4 linked regions of the Homo sapiens genome follow. The protein of the gene in region 2 interacts with the protein of the main gene of each other region in a pairwise test. Each region holds a gene or a part of one and is shown on either strand. Other genes may lie near its edges. The genes, in order: PLLP, PTAFR, PPM1J and SPATA24.

Evidence for each region.
Region 1: the proteins of PTAFR (region 2) and PLLP interact in a two-hybrid assay, tested with the Homo sapiens proteins (one large-scale study listed by BioGRID and IntAct).
Region 3: the proteins of PTAFR (region 2) and PPM1J interact in a two-hybrid assay, tested with the Homo sapiens proteins (one large-scale study listed by BioGRID and IntAct).
Region 4: the proteins of PTAFR (region 2) and SPATA24 interact in a two-hybrid assay, tested with the Homo sapiens proteins (one large-scale study listed by BioGRID and IntAct).

What each region holds. Positions count from the first base shown.
Region 1 is NC_000016.10:57,278,173-57,281,672, reverse strand, and holds part of PLLP (plasmolipin), read left to right. Parts: intron 1-3,500. UniProt on the Homo sapiens protein: Main component of the myelin sheath that plays an important role in myelin membrane biogenesis and myelination. Plays an essential function in apical endocytosis. Regulates epithelial development through the regulation of apical endocytosis.
Region 2 is NC_000001.11:28,166,088-28,170,663, reverse strand, and holds part of PTAFR (platelet-activating factor receptor), read left to right. Parts: intron 1-4,576. UniProt on the Homo sapiens protein: Receptor for platelet activating factor, a chemotactic phospholipid mediator that possesses potent inflammatory, smooth-muscle contractile and hypotensive activity.
Region 3 is NC_000001.11:112,709,498-112,712,548, forward strand, and holds the end of PPM1J (protein phosphatase 1J), read right to left. Parts: intron 2,961-3,051; coding exon 2,848-2,960; intron 2,559-2,847; coding exon 2,474-2,558; intron 1,888-2,473; coding exon 1,769-1,887; intron 1,575-1,768; coding exon 1,511-1,574; intron 1,355-1,510; coding exon 1,247-1,354; intron 1,115-1,246; coding exon 963-1,114; intron 814-962; coding exon 666-813; 3' UTR 501-665; downstream 1-500.
Region 4 is NC_000005.10:139,395,704-139,399,191, reverse strand, and holds the end of SPATA24 (spermatogenesis-associated protein 24), read left to right. Parts: intron 1-1,765; coding exon of another isoform or gene 1,766-1,839; exon of another isoform or gene 1,840-1,914; intron 1,915-2,048; coding exon 2,049-2,151; intron 2,152-2,236; coding exon of another isoform or gene 2,237-2,262; coding exon 2,263-2,392; downstream 2,393-3,488. UniProt on the Homo sapiens protein: Binds DNA with high affinity but does not bind to TATA boxes. Synergises with GMNN and TBP in activation of TATA box-containing promoters and with GMNN and TBPL1 in activation of the NF1 TATA-less promoter.

The sequences.
Region 1 (3,500 bases), on a different chromosome or scaffold from region 2:
CTGGCATGGTGGTGGGTGCCTGCAGTCCCAGCTACTCGGGAGGCTGAGGCGGGAGAATGGCGTGAACCCGGGAGGTGGAGCTTGCAGTGAGCCGAGATGGCGCCACGGCACTCCAGCCTGGGAGACAGAAAGAGACTCCGTCTCAAAAAAAAAAAGAAATAAAAAAAAAATCTGCTTGTTGGAGAAGCTGCATCCTGAGCTGTTTCTCTGGCAACAGGTAGTTCCACTGGGTCTGAAATGGGATATGTGGGGGTTAATCCAACAGGCACCACCATCTGCTGGGAAGCCATGGTAGCTCCCATCTATCAGGCCAGCACTAGGCTCAGGCCCTTTGCCAAGGCCTTTAGATCTTCTTAGTCGGCCCCATTTTAGGTGAGAAAACTGAGGCTCAGAGGCCAGTTCTTTGCCCAAGATCTCACAGCCCTCCTCCACAGGAGTGATTTTTCTGACTTTTCTGGCCTATGGTCTTAATGACCACGTGTGGCTTTGCTGCTACCTTCCCAGGATCTGTCATTATGGAGGGAGTGGTGGGGACCCTGGGCCCACAGCCTGCTTTCCAGGAGCTCTTGGTCAGTGAGAGAGGTGCCCAGAGGATGTGCTTCTCCCAGAGGGATCAGAGAAGGCTGCATGGAGCAGGAAATAAATGAGAAAATGGAAGCTAATTCTCCATCAAACCCTTCTGTTTCCCAGGATTTGATGAATGTTCCTGGTATGGTGGGAGGAAGGGGAGGTGGGTAGAAAGGCTCCCAGCTCCTGGAGAAGGAGATACACTTTTCATTCGGTATCAGAATGTGTCCTGAAGAACCAATCTCAGTATTCTTCACAGATGTCTGGTGGTGTTCATTGATTTATCACTATCGTTATTCCTTGTAGATTCAGAAAGAACACCAGATGGAATATGATATTAAACCACATAAGACAGAAGAGTTAAAGCGATGTATCTTTAAAAGCTGGTGGTGTGGAGGGGAGAATTGACTTGCAGCAAGTTTAAGGCTGTTGATTATTTGTTGAACTTCCTAGCAGCCTAGGCAAAAAGGGAAACATGAAGAATCTATGCAGATAGCGTCTAAAAAAGGAGGCAGGTCTTTGTTTTGTTTTGTTTTGTTTTCTCTTGCCAATGGATTCATGTCACAAGGCAGGCAAGTTTGATCTACAGATAACTCTTTTGGTTTTAAAAAAAAAAGGCATCAGTGCTACAGATTTTTGTGTAGCTCAGGTGGAAGAATGCAGAAGGCGTGGTTATTTGCTTATGGGGAGCTCCCAAAGCCTTTTTACAATAAGTATAAAGTAGTGCTGTTAGGTGCCCATCTCTCATTTTTTCAAGCCTCCCCAAGCCGTGGGGAGAAGGATGATCTTATCTGGATTTACTGATAAGTAAATAGGCTCCGAGAGGGTGAGGAACTTGTCCAAGGTCACACAGGATAGAGTGGCAAGCTTGGCTTTGCACTTCGATCTGGAAATCCAAAACCTGGCTCTAGCTATGCTTCCTCATCTTGTTTACTTTGGGGGTGGGAAGTTCTAGAGTGCTTTCTAGGGGGAAAAGGGGGACTGCAGGAAGGGAGACTCATCAGGGGCCAAGGCCATCAGGGAGGGCTTCCTGGCATAGGAAGGGAGAAGGAGGATCAGGACAGACCAGAGCTTGTACAGAGACCTGTCAGTCAGTAGGCGTCCTTGAGGCCCAGGATGTGGAAGCTGTGTGAATGCCCTGTGGCGGTAAGGCCATTTGGTTTGGTACCTTCTGTCCTTCCATTTTGCCCCACCTCCTGGGATTGGGGGTGGCCACACAATTCCCACTTTGCAGGTGAATAACAGATCAAAAGCCTCACCTAGCTAGGCAGGTGGCAGGGTGGCACATGCCTGTAGTTCCAGCTACTTGGGAGGCTGAGGTAGGAAGATTGCTTGAGCCTTGGAGTTTAAGGCTGCAGTAAGCCATGATCACGTCACTGCACTCTAGCCTGGGTGACAGAGTAAGACCCCTACTTTTTTTTTTTTTTCCTCGAGACAAGGTCTTGCTCTGTCACCCAGGCTGGACTATAGTAGTGTGATCACAGCTCACTGCAACCTCAACCTCCCAGGCTCAGACGATCCTCCCACTTCAGGCCTCCTGAGTATCTGGGACGACAGGTACATGCCACAATGCCTGGCTAAGTTTTTATATTTTTTGTAAAGATGGGATTTCATCATGTTACCCAGACTGGTCTCGAACTCCTGGGCTCCAGCAATCCACCTGCCTTGGCCTCCCAAAGTGCTGAGATTACAGGTGTGAGCCACTGTACCCAGTCCTCTACTCTTAACAAAAAAAAAAAAAAAGGAAGAAGAAGAAGAGAAGCCTTCCCTAGATCTCCATGATCCATGGGGTGGCATGGAGAGTGCTGATGGGAACACAGGCCTGGACGCTGAGAGCCTTGGGTTCAAATCCTGGCTCTGTCCCTTTCTGGCTGCATGATCCTGGGGGAGTTCCCAAATTTCCCTGAGCCTCACTTCCTTGTCTGTCAGATGGTGATGGCAGGATCTAGATCATGCCTGCAAAGAGCTAGCCTAGCACTATATGTGGGAATGAAGGACAGTTTGGATTCACAGGGTTATAGGATCCGAGGGTTCTTATGCAAGCATAAGAGGTGCCTTTGCAGCATCTCCAACATGAACTTGCATGCTTCCAGAGACAGGGAGCTCAGTTCTTCTTAAGGCTGCCTGCTCCATCCTTGGGCACTTGGGAGTGTTGGAAAGTTCTTCCTTATGGTGATACCGGCTCTGTCTCCGGCCCCAGGAGGCAGACCAGCTCCTCTGCAGATGAAGGGCAGGGCAGGGACTGAAAGCCAACTCTGGTCTCCAGGAAGGGGCTACCTAGATGAGATTGTTGGAGTCCGAGTGAGGTGTGAGCAGGGCTTGGTCACACTCGGATTGCAATGTCTGAGACTCCCGGGGCTTCCCTTAGCACTGAGATTTGTGGGTGGTTCAGTCTTTTTAGTACAGCATTCCAGGCCCCGCATGCCCAATATCTTCATCCAACCCAGCTCCACTGCACAGAGCAATAAATGCCTTGTATTGTTAGTTCCCCCCACACTCCCCACTTACTGCAAGGGGGGGAGTATTGAGTGTTTGGGAATTAATGTGTAATTACATTATGAATATATGAATACATTCTCCTCACAAAATAAAAAAACCTGTACAGATTACACTAAAGCTGTAGTTGGATTACCCACCTCTGTCCCTAAGGGGACAACTATTTGGGGTGTTTCTAGTCTTTTTTCCTGTGCACTTTTGAAAACATTGATAGTTTTATTCTGTATCCTTTGTTCAGCAAGTTGCTTTTCTCATACTTGGTGCATCTGAGAGCTCTTCTTGTGCTCTGTCATCCAGGCTGGAGTGCAGCGGCGTAATCTCAGCTCACTGCAACCTCCGCCTCCCGGGTTCACGCCATTCTCCTGCCTCAGCCTCCCGAATAGCTGGGACTACAGGTGCCTGCCACTACACCCAACTCATTATTGTATTTTTAGTAG
Region 2 (4,576 bases):
GTGGTATGATCATAGCTTACTGTAATGGACCCAAGTGATCCTGCAGCCTCAGCCTCCATAGTAGCTAGGACTGCAGGCATGTGCCACCATGCCTGGCTAATTTTTTTTTTAATTTTTAATTTTGTAGAGACAAAATTTGGTTATGTTGCTCAGGCTGGTCTTAAACTCCTGACCTCAAGCAATTCTCTTACCTCAGCCTCTCAAAGTGCTGGCATTATAGATGTGGGCCACCTTTCCAGCCTCAATGTTGATGCTATTCCCATTTTATAGATGAGGAAAGTGGGACTGGCCCCAGCGAATCTAAGAGCTGGGAGTGGCTAGAGCTGGGGTGTGAGAGTTTGGAAGCGAAGAGTGAGGGACACTGTGACTGTGTGTGTACAGAGGCTCACCTGTCTATTTAGTCAGTATTTCTCATGTGTTTGCTATGTAGGAGGCCCTGTGATGGGTATTGGTGATATGCCAGAAGCCTTGGCCCTTGGGAATTCCCAGTCCAAAAGGAGAGAGAAATCAACAGCTATGATAATGCAATGTGATAGATTGTTATGGGAACTTGAGGTGGAATTTCCAACTCTGTCTGGGGTAGGGAAGTAAGAGTAACAATAGCCAACATTCAATGAGCTCTCACTGTAGACCAGACCAGGCATCTTCTTTTTTTTTTTTTTTTGAGATGGAGTCTCGCTCTGTCGCCCAGACTCCAGTGCAATGGCGTCATCTTGGCTCACTGCAATCTCTGCCTCCTGGGTTCAAGTGATTCCCCTGCCTCGGCCTCCCGAGTAGCTGGGATTACAGGCATGCACCACCATGCCTGGTTAATTTTTGTATTTTTAGTAGAGATAGGGTTTCACCATGTTGGCTAGGCTGGTCTCGAACTCCTTACCTCAAGTGATCTGCCCGCCTTGGCCTCCCAAAGTGCTGGGATTACAGGTATGAGCCACTGCGCCCAGCCCTGATAAGGACTTTATACACATTATTTCATTGACTCTTCACACCACTCTGGAGAGGTATGTGCCTGGGTATTATCAGCTCCATTTTCAGTGAGGGACCTGAGAATCAGAGGGAGGACATGCTTGGCTGTGGTTCTGTGGTAGGAAGTGAGAGAGGTAAGATCTGAACCCAGGTTTGTCTGACTACAGAGTCTGACTCCAGAGTCTGTGCTCTTAACCACTGTTCTCTAAATACTGTACATCCTTTATTTCGCTTGATGAAAGAGATGTGGTTTACAAATGAGGCCCGAAGGCGGCAAGCAGTTTTACCAAAGGTTGCATAGCTTTTAAGTCATAAACTGAGTCATATGACTCTAACTTAAAAATACACAATGTACTTTCAAATTTGTCGTCTCTTAGGCCCATTGATTTTTTTTTTTTTTTTACTGTGGTGAAAACCGTAACATAAATTTACTCTCTTAGCATGCATTTTGAAAAATTTATTTTATAGAGACTGGGGTGTTGCTATGTTGTCCAGACTGGTCTCAAACTCCTGGGCTCAAGTGATCCACTCATTTTGGCCTCCCAAAGTGCTGGAATTACAGGCCACGTAATTCCAGCCATGTGCCTGGTCCCTGTTAACATTTTTAAAGTGTATAGTTCAGTCATGCTACCTATATTCACATTGTTGTATAATAGATCTCTAGAATGTTTTCTTTTCTTTTCTTTTCTTTTTTTAAATCCTGCGAGTGCCAATAGAATGTTTTCAACTTGGCTGGGCGCAGTGGCTCATGCTGGTAATCCCAGCACTTTGGGAGGTCAATGAGGGTGGATCGCTTGAGGTCAGGAGTTCGAGACTATCCTGGTCAACATGTTGAAACCCCGTCTCTACCAAAAATACAAAATTAGCTGGGTGTGGTGGTGCATGCCTGTAATCCCAGCTACTCGGGAGGCTGAGGCAGGAGAATCGCTTGAACCCAGGAGGCGGAGGTTGTGGTGAACCAATATCATGCCACAGCACTCCAGCCTGGGTGACAGAGTGAGACTTCATTTCAAACAAACAAACAAAAAAGAATGTTTTCATCTTGCATGACTGAAACTCTACATCTGTTGAACATCTCTCTATTTTCCCCTCCTCCCAGCCCCTGGCAACCACCGTTCTACTTTTGGTTCTATGCGTTTGATTACTTTAAATGTCTCATATAATAAGTGGAATCATATAGTATTTGTCTTCCTGTGAGCTGGCTTATTTCACTTAGCAGAAATGTCTTCAAGATTCATCCATGTTGTAACATGTGTCAGAATTTTCTTCCTTTGTAAGGCTGAGTAATATTCCATTGTATGTATATACCACATTTTGCTTATCCATTCATCTGTCCATGGACATGTTAGGTGTTTCCACGCTTGATGATTGTGAATAATGTTGCTATGAATATGAATGTGCAAATGTCTTTTCAAGATCCTGTTTTCTGCCGGGCGCGGTGGCTCACGCCTGTAATCCCAGCACTTTGGGTGGCCGAGGAGGGCGGATCACGAGGTCAGCAGATTGAGACCATCCTGGCTAACACGGTGAAACCCCTTCTCTACTAAAAATACAAAAAAAAAAAAAAAAAAATTAGCCGGGTGTGGTGGCGGGCACCTGTAGTCCCAGCTACTCGGGAGACTGAGGCGGGAGAATGGCGTGAACCCGGGAGGCGGAGCTTGCAGCGAGCCGAGATTGCGCCACTGCACTCCAGCCTGCGCTACAGAGCGAGACTCCATCTCAAAAAAAAAAAAAAAAAAAAAAAAAAGATCTGGTTTTCAGTTGGGCGTGGTGGTTCATCCCTGTAATCCCAGCACTTTGAGAGGCCAAGGTGGGCGGATCACTTGAGGTCAGGCGTTAGAGACCAGCTTGGCCAACATGGCGAAACCTCGTCTCTACTAAACGTACAAAAATTAGCCGGGCGAGGTGGCGGGTGCCTGTAGTCCCAGCTACTAGGGAGGCTGAGAACCGCTTGAACGCGGGAGGCGGAGGTTGCAGTGAACCAAGATCGTGCCACTGCACTCCAGCCTGGGCGACAGAGTAAGGCTCCATCTCAAAAAAAAAAAAAAAAAAAAAAAAAAAAAATCCCGTTTTCAGTTCTTTTGAATATATAGTATACCCAGAGCGGAACTGTTGGGTCATATAATCATTCTAATTTTAGTTTTTTGAGGAGCTTCTATACTCTTTTCCATAGTGGCTGCACCGTTTTGGAATCCCACGAACACTATGCGAAAGTTCCAATTTCTCACATCCTTGCTGACACATTTCTGTTTTACTGATAGTGGCCATTCCAGTGGGTTTGAGGTGATATTGCATTATGGTTTCAATTTGCATTTCTCTGATGATCAGTGATATTGAGCCATCTTTTCACATGTTTATGGTCATTGGTATATCGTCTTTGGAGAAATGTCTATTCAGGTTCTTTGCCCATTTTTTAAATTGAATTTTTTGTTATTGTTGTTACTGAGTTGTAGGAGTTCTGCATATTAACCCCTTATCTGATATCTGGTTCCATCCGAAAGGTTGCCTTTTCTCCCATCCACAGGTTGCCTTTCCACTCTGCTGATTGTTTTCCTTTGCTTCATGGAGATTATTTAAAGTTTGCCAAAAAATAGTTTATTTGTGCTTTCGTTGCCTGTGCTTTTGGTGTCATATCCAGGAAATTATGACCCATTCCAATGTCATGAGGCTTTTTATTGTTTTTAATGTAAATAACTAATTAATTAATTTTTTTGTTGTTTAGAGACAGAGTCTCCCTCTGTTGCCTAGGCTGGAGTACAGTGGCATGATCATAGCTCACTTCAGCCTTGAGCTCCTGGGCTCAAGGTATCCTCCTGTCTCAGCCTCTGAATAGCTGAGACTACAGGTGCATGCCATCGTGCTCAGCTAATTTTTTAAATTTTGTGTAGAAACAAGATCTTGCTACGTTGCCCAGGCTGATCCCAAACTCCTGGCTTCAAGCAATCCTCCTACCTAGGCCTCTCAAAGTTCTGGGATTACAGGCATGAGCCACTGTATCTGGCCTGTTGTGAAGCTTTTTTTTTTTTTGAGATGGAGTCTTGCTCTGTTTCCCAGGCTGGAGTGCAATGGCACGATCTTGGCTCACTGCAACCTCCGCCTCCCTGGTCCAAGTGATTCTCGTGCCTCAGCCTCCCGAGTAGCTGGGATTACAGGCACCCGCCATCATGCCTGGCTACTTTTTGTATTTTTGTAGAGACGGGATTTCACCATGTTGGCCAGGCTGGTCTTCAACTCCTGACCTCAGGTGATCTGCCCACCTTAGCCCCACAAAGTGCTGGGATTACAGGCGTGAACCACCACACCCCGCCAAGAAGCTTTTATCCTATGTTTTCTTTGAGGAGTTTTATAGTTTCAGGTCTTATGTTTAGGTCTTTAATCCATTTTAAGTTAATTTTTGTATAATATATGGTGTAAGATAAGAGCCCATCTTCATTCTTCTGCATGTGGATATCCATCTTTCCCAGCACTTTTCGTTGAAGGGACTATTCTTTCCCCATTGTGTAATCATGGTCCTCTTGTCAAAGATTATTTGACTATGTATGTGAGGGTTTATTTTGGGTCTCTCTATTCTGTCCCATTGATCTATGTGTCTGTCTTTATGCCAGTCCAA
Region 3 (3,051 bases), about 85 Mb from region 2:
GTGGTGACTGAAGGCGGGGAGAGATGGAGATAAGTAGAGAAATACTTTTAAAGGTCTATAGTCAACAATACTTAGTGATCAATTACCTTGATGAGAAAGAAATGAAAGCCAAGGGTGACCAACTCCAAGATTTCTAACTGGAGCAGCAGAGCTGGTGCCCATTGAGGGGATATACCAGGAGAAGGAACATGCTATGGAGGGCAGTCGTGAATTTAGTTTGAGGTATTTGAATTGAAGTGCCAGCAGGCTATCCAGGAGACATTCGGGAGATGACTGGTATGTGTGGGTCTAAAGCTCAGGAAGGGTCTGGGCAGATGGGTGAGGCCACAGAAGTGGATGATGACACTCACAGCAAATGCGTGGAGTGGAAAGAGTGGGGGTGGAATAAAGAACCTGGGGGACACCACATTTCTAGAACTGTTCTGGTGCTCTTTCCACCACCCCACAGAGCTTTCTTCTTATCTTTCAGTTTCTAGTCAAAGCAAATACAGACACACACCTTTATCCATCTCGTTTATTTGCCAATAGCTGTAATTTTGGATATAGCGGACATCCCTTCTTCAGTTAAGTTGCCACTAAAGAAGGGTCAGGGAGACAACTTCAGAATTTGGGCTGTGAGAGGAGTAAGTATGGAGAGGCTAGTGGGAGGGATGGTGTTCAGCCCCTCAGGAGTAACTGCCTGGCCCTCCCAGGGGGATGACGAAGACAGAGATGTCATCCCCGGAACCCAGCTTGTTGTTGGGGAGACGCCAGCCACGGTCTCGGGGGGTACCCCGGGCCCCCAGGACCAGAGCTTGGGCCAGAGCTGTATACCTGCCAGGAGCACACATGCACATTCATGTACCAACATGTATGTGGGAAGACAGATACACAGGCCCACATGTGGGGTCCCAAGCATTGCTTCCCTTTGACCCTTCTTTCACCAATGCCATCCCCTTACCACCATGCCATGCAGCCCCTACCTGCTGTGGTCATTAGGCTCATAGGCCGACAGCACCCTGTCCACAGTGGCAGCTACCTCACAGTCAGTAGTGACATCCCACAGGCCATCTGTTCCCAGGACTAGCACATCATCTGGGCAGTGCTCATATTGTGTCAGGTCATACACTCGTACCTGGTGGGAGAAAAGGGCAGAGAGGATTGAGGTGTGGGGTTTGCTGGACAGGGAGCTTGGAGATAAAGGGACTGCAGATGAAAGCTGGCCTGAGACTCCCAGAGAAGGCAAGGTGTGGTTTAAGGGGCTCACCTCAGGGAAGCAGGAGAGAAAGGGCTTGATGGGCAGGGTGGAACTGCAGACCTTAAGGCTGTGGTCTCCCAAGCCTCGGGTCACCCCAATGGTGGCCATCACCCGAGCCTGAAAGAAATGAGGAGGGAGTGCCACTGTAGTCCTCTGCTAGATTCTCTGAAACCAAAGATCCCTTCCACCCCTACCCTCAGGTAGAACCTCCACCTCCCTAGACAAGTTGTGATAGGTCCTCCTCCCCTCTCCCACCTCTACCATGGAGTTTACCTTTTTGCCCTCCCCACAGACCAGAGGAAACCTGAGATCCTCCAGCTCGATCTTTTTGTAGGCCCTGGGGAGGGGGGAGTAGAGGAGGCATCACCCAGGCATCAAAGCCCCTCTCCCCTAGGAGCTGCATACCCTCACACAAACCCCTTAGAAGGGCCACATCCTCCCAACTCCCAGCCTCCAGCTTCCACCTTGCTGCGGGCGAGGGACTGGTTGTGTTGCCATGGGAACGGGCCCCAGCTCTGAGGGAAGTGTTACCAGCCGGTCATGTTCTGGTCCCGGTACAACATCCTCTGCCCCAGCTCCTTGGGCAGAACTCTGCGGGGGAACTCAAGGTGGGTGAATTCACTGCCTAGCAGCTCTGGTTTCAGGAAGCCCTGGAGTTGGGGATGATCAGAACAGAGAGCCAGGGGGCATTATGCTCACAGCACACGGTGGCACACAGATGACGTTGACTACAGCAGACCCTTAAACAGAGTTTACCATGTGCCACACGTTATTCTAATATTAGCAAATATTAACTCATTTACTCCTCACAACAGCCCTTAAGGCAGGAACTATTGATGCACAGAGAGGTTAAGGGAGGGAACTGCTCCGGTCACACAATTAGCAAAGCACTCAGACCAGGATGCATCCCGGGCTTCCAGCTCCACAGCCACATGCGTTTAGGCACTAAGCCGGACTGCCTTTCAGGGGCCTTTGCTGTTTCCTTCCCCCACCTCAGTCTCTACTTCCTGCCTCAGCTGGGGCCACAGTGGGAGCACTGGACCAGCCCAGTGCTGCAGCCTCCCTGCTGCAACCTCCCACCGGCTCAGCCCCGCACTCCATAGTCCACACAGCGGCCTTCCCAGTAAAGTGCTTTCTGTGCCTGTGGTGGGGGTGTGAGAGTTCTCAGGGCCATGGGGTGCAGGGAGGCACAAGACCCGACAAAGAATGGGGGTAGGGAATTTGGTTCCTACTTACAAGCAGCTGAAGACGCTGGCGCTCAGTCTCCGGGGTAAACTCCCGGGACATTGGAATGATTTCACCATTCCGGACAATGATGGCCCTGCCCAAAGAAAGAAAAGGAATTGGGACCTGGTTCTCTTCAGACCCACTCATGAAAAATTCCAGAAAGACCAGGCCCTCTCCATAATGACCTTTCAGATCTCTTACCCAGACCCCCATATCTGCCCCTGACCCCACCCAATGGATATTTCAGGCCACTCCTTATGTCTGTCACCCCTCTTGACTCCCTCCAATCTTGATTTTTAACCCCTGCCACCTTACTCTCCTGTATTCCCCCAACTCAGAGAGTGTGGCCCTCTGTCGCCACCTTGGAGCCCCCTCCCCCATACCTGCTATCGCCTGCATTGGCCACGTACACCTTGCCTAGCAGGTAGATCACAACCAGTGCACAGCAGCCCCCCTCCACTTGGTGGCCACGCCGCTCCCGGGCCATCTGCTCATCCTGCCACATAAGGAAGGGTCAGAGGTGGGTAGAAGGAGAGGTTCCAGCACACAGTCACCCTCCCCCTACCCCCTCCACCCGTAGAAATCAA
Region 4 (3,488 bases), on a different chromosome or scaffold from region 2:
GTGCCCGCCACCACACCTGGCTAATTTTTTGTATTTTTAGTAGAGACAAGGTTTCACCGTGTTAGCCAGGATGGTCTCCATCTCCTGACTTTGTGATCCACCCACCTTGGCCTCCCAAAGTGCTGGGATTACAGGCGTGAGCCACCACGCCTGGCCTTTTTTTTTTTTGAAGCGGAATCTCGCTCTGTCACCCAGGCTGAAGTGCAATGGCACGATCTCGGCTCACTGCAACCTCCGTCTCCTGGGTTCAAGCAATTCTTCTGCCACAGCCTCCAAAGTAGCTGGGATTACAGGCATGTGCCACCACACCCAGCTAATTTTTGTATTTTTAGTAGAGACGGGGTTTTACCATGTTGGCCAGGCTGGTCTCAAACTCCTGACCTCAGGTGATCCACCCGCCTTGGCCTCCCAAAGTGCTGGGATTACAGGCATGAGCCACTGTGCCTGGCCCCTTGTCCAACCTTTGAAGACAGTAGGATTTTCTTTCTGTAGGAATCAGAATTTTCCAAGGTGCCATGTGGGGCAGTTATGTAAATGAAGCACCCCCAGATCCCTACAGCCTCCTTGGATTTTGATCCAACACAGAAAAATTATCATTTATTTATTTATTTATTATTTAGAGACAGGGTCTTGCTCTGTCACCCAGGCTGGAGTGCAGGGGCACAGTCATAGCTCATTGCAGCCCCCAACTCCTGAGCTCAAGTGATCCTCTTGCCTCAGCAAGTAGCCAGGACTATAGGCATGTTCCAACACCATGCCCAGCTAGTTTTTTGTTTTTTTTTTTTTTAGTTTTGTAGAGGCGAGGTCTCACTATGTTGCCCAGACTGGTCTCTTACTCCTGGGCTCAAGCCATCCTCCTGCCTCAGAAAGTCATCTTTGCCTCAAATGTACGATTAATTTGGGGGTAGGCTTTGCCACCACTATCTCACTGGGTCCTCCCCAGACCACTGTGGGATAGGGCTGTCTCTTTCCCCATCTTTGAAATGAGGAAACAGGTCTGAAAATCGAGGCAACTCCCATCTTCTCCCACCACCCCTGAAGCCCTAGCACAAGGCTGGGCATCCAGCCAGCCCTCGGGAAGTTTGTTTGGACTGGGATGACTGAACTAGGTCTTTTTTCTGAGTCCTAAACCCCCAGGGACATCCCGTTCATTCGGTCTGCAAATATACTTTTTGTATACCTACTATGTGCCAGGTGCTGTTTTAGGCCTTAGGGATAAAGCCGTGAATAAAACAAAGATCCTTGTCCTTGTGGACCTTACATCCCAGCAGCGGAGAAGACAGATGAGTAAAGTATATGGTATGTTAGGTAAAAGTGTTAAGAAAAATAAAGCAGGATGTTGGGCATGGTGGCTCACGCCTGTAATCCCAGCATTTTGGGAGGCTGAGGTGGGTGGATCACCTGAGGTCAGAAGTTCGAGACCAGCCTGGCCAACATGGTGAAACCCCATCTCTACTAAAAATACAAAAATTAGCTGGGCGTGGTGGCAGGCGCCTGTAATCCCAGCTACTCGGGAGGCTGAGGCAGGAGAATTGCTTGAACTCAGGAGGTGGAGGTTGCAGTGAGCCAAGATCATGCCACTGCACTCCAGCCTGGCGACAGAGCAAGACTCAGTCTCAAATACAAAAAAAAAAAAAAGAGAAAGCAGGAAGAGGGAACAGGAAGTACTGGGAAATGTAATTTTTTGATGAGGGAGAGTTTCTCCAAGGAGGCAACATCTGTAAAGACCTGCAGGAGTTGAGGGCAGGCGCCATTCATCTTCCAGCCTTTGGTCAGGCCTGCCCACTTCTCTCCAAGGACCTTCTCCTGCCCTCATGTGGGTCCTCTGGTCCAGAATAGACTTGTGAAGTCATTGACAACAATCCTCAAACACTGCACTCCCCCAAGACTGCATAATAAACTCATTCATACTAAGGTATTAGCAGTTCTTCATGGAGAACTCTTGGGTGGGGAGCCAAGCTCTGAAAAGCCCCGTGAGGGAATGCCTTATCTCAGGAAGGAGCCCTGGGATGGGAACCACCCCTCCTCCCTGCCTCTCTCCCCCACAGAGATTGAGTCTCACATTATAAAGCAAGAAGATATACTTAATGGCAAAGAGAATGAGATTAAAGAGTTGCAGCAAGTTATCAGCCAGCAGAAACAGATCTTCAGGTGAGGGGTCTGGGCCCGGCTGGGGGTTGTTGATGACACTGGGGAGCCAGACCTCTGGCCCCTACCTACCCTTGGCTGTCCACAGCCCACCACCAGCCGGCTCCGTTGCAGGAATCACATGTCTGACTTCCGGATCCAGAAGCAGCAGGAGAGCTACATGGCCCAGGTGCTGGACCAGAAGCATAAGAAAGCCTCAGGGACACGTCAGGCCCGCAGCCACCAGCATCCCAGGGAAAAATAAAATGGCCGCCGCTTTCCTGTTCTCTGGCTGTAATCCCCAGCCTCTGCCTTCTCTGCTCTGGGAGTCCCCAGCCTCTAGCCCCTGCTACTTCCCTCCCTCTTGGATAGTGGTAGGGGTCCACAAGGTGGGGGCTTGTAGCCTAGGGGAGGAGCTGGGTCTTTGTTGTCTGGTAGGCACCACCGCTTCCTTTGGGTATTTAATCCCTTCCTATATAAACAGCCCTGGTTACCCAGTAATATTCCACCCCACTCCCAGTGTCCTGGTAAATTTAACTTCCCAACTTGACTACAGGGCCGGAAGCCCTGACCAGAAACTTCAAAGACAGTGGGTTCCAGAACCACAAGGAATTTGGGAAGTCAGTTTCCATCACATGACAATAATGTTATACCTGCAAATTGCATTTGCACCTGCTGACACCTCCCCCAAACGGGAGCTTCACAATGGGAGGAAGAGAAAAGACAATGCTGTGTGTGGTTTTAAGGTGGAGAAACAATCTGGGAAGGGACCTCAATTTGCACAAGTTGCACAGGCAGGGCTGGATGGGATGGAGCAGCAACATTTTTTCAGAAGCCATCACCGAGTGCCCCCTAGGTGATCATGGGGACACACCCAGGCAGAGGACCCACTTCAGGGGTCAGATTAGCCCAGTGTAGCCTGTCCTGGGTCGGTTTGAGGCCAAGTGCACAGGAGGGGGCAGTGCTCTTGCTCCAGGGCCAGCTGGGGCCTGAGTCATAGCAGGACCTTGAAGCCAGAAGTTTAAGGGCAAGTGGTGCCCACAGTTGTAAGACAATGACAGGTGGTGGTTGCCTCCCCACCAGCGCCTGTCCCCAGGGCAGGTCCTAAGGCTGTGGGGGCTGAAGTTAGGGCCTTGTGAATACCTGGGGGAGCACAGGGCTGTTCTGGCCGCAGGGGCCTTTGGAGCTGGGACCACAAGCTACTTCGAAGCTTCCTGTAGGACCCCACATCGGTATCCAGGGCCTGTTCTAGGTGCTGAGGCAGACTGAAAGCTAGAGCTGTCCACTCCAGCTCCTTCCAATAGGTCCCACCGAGGGCAGTGGGTCCAGCCAGTGGTAGTACCTTCCTGAGGCCCTGAGGA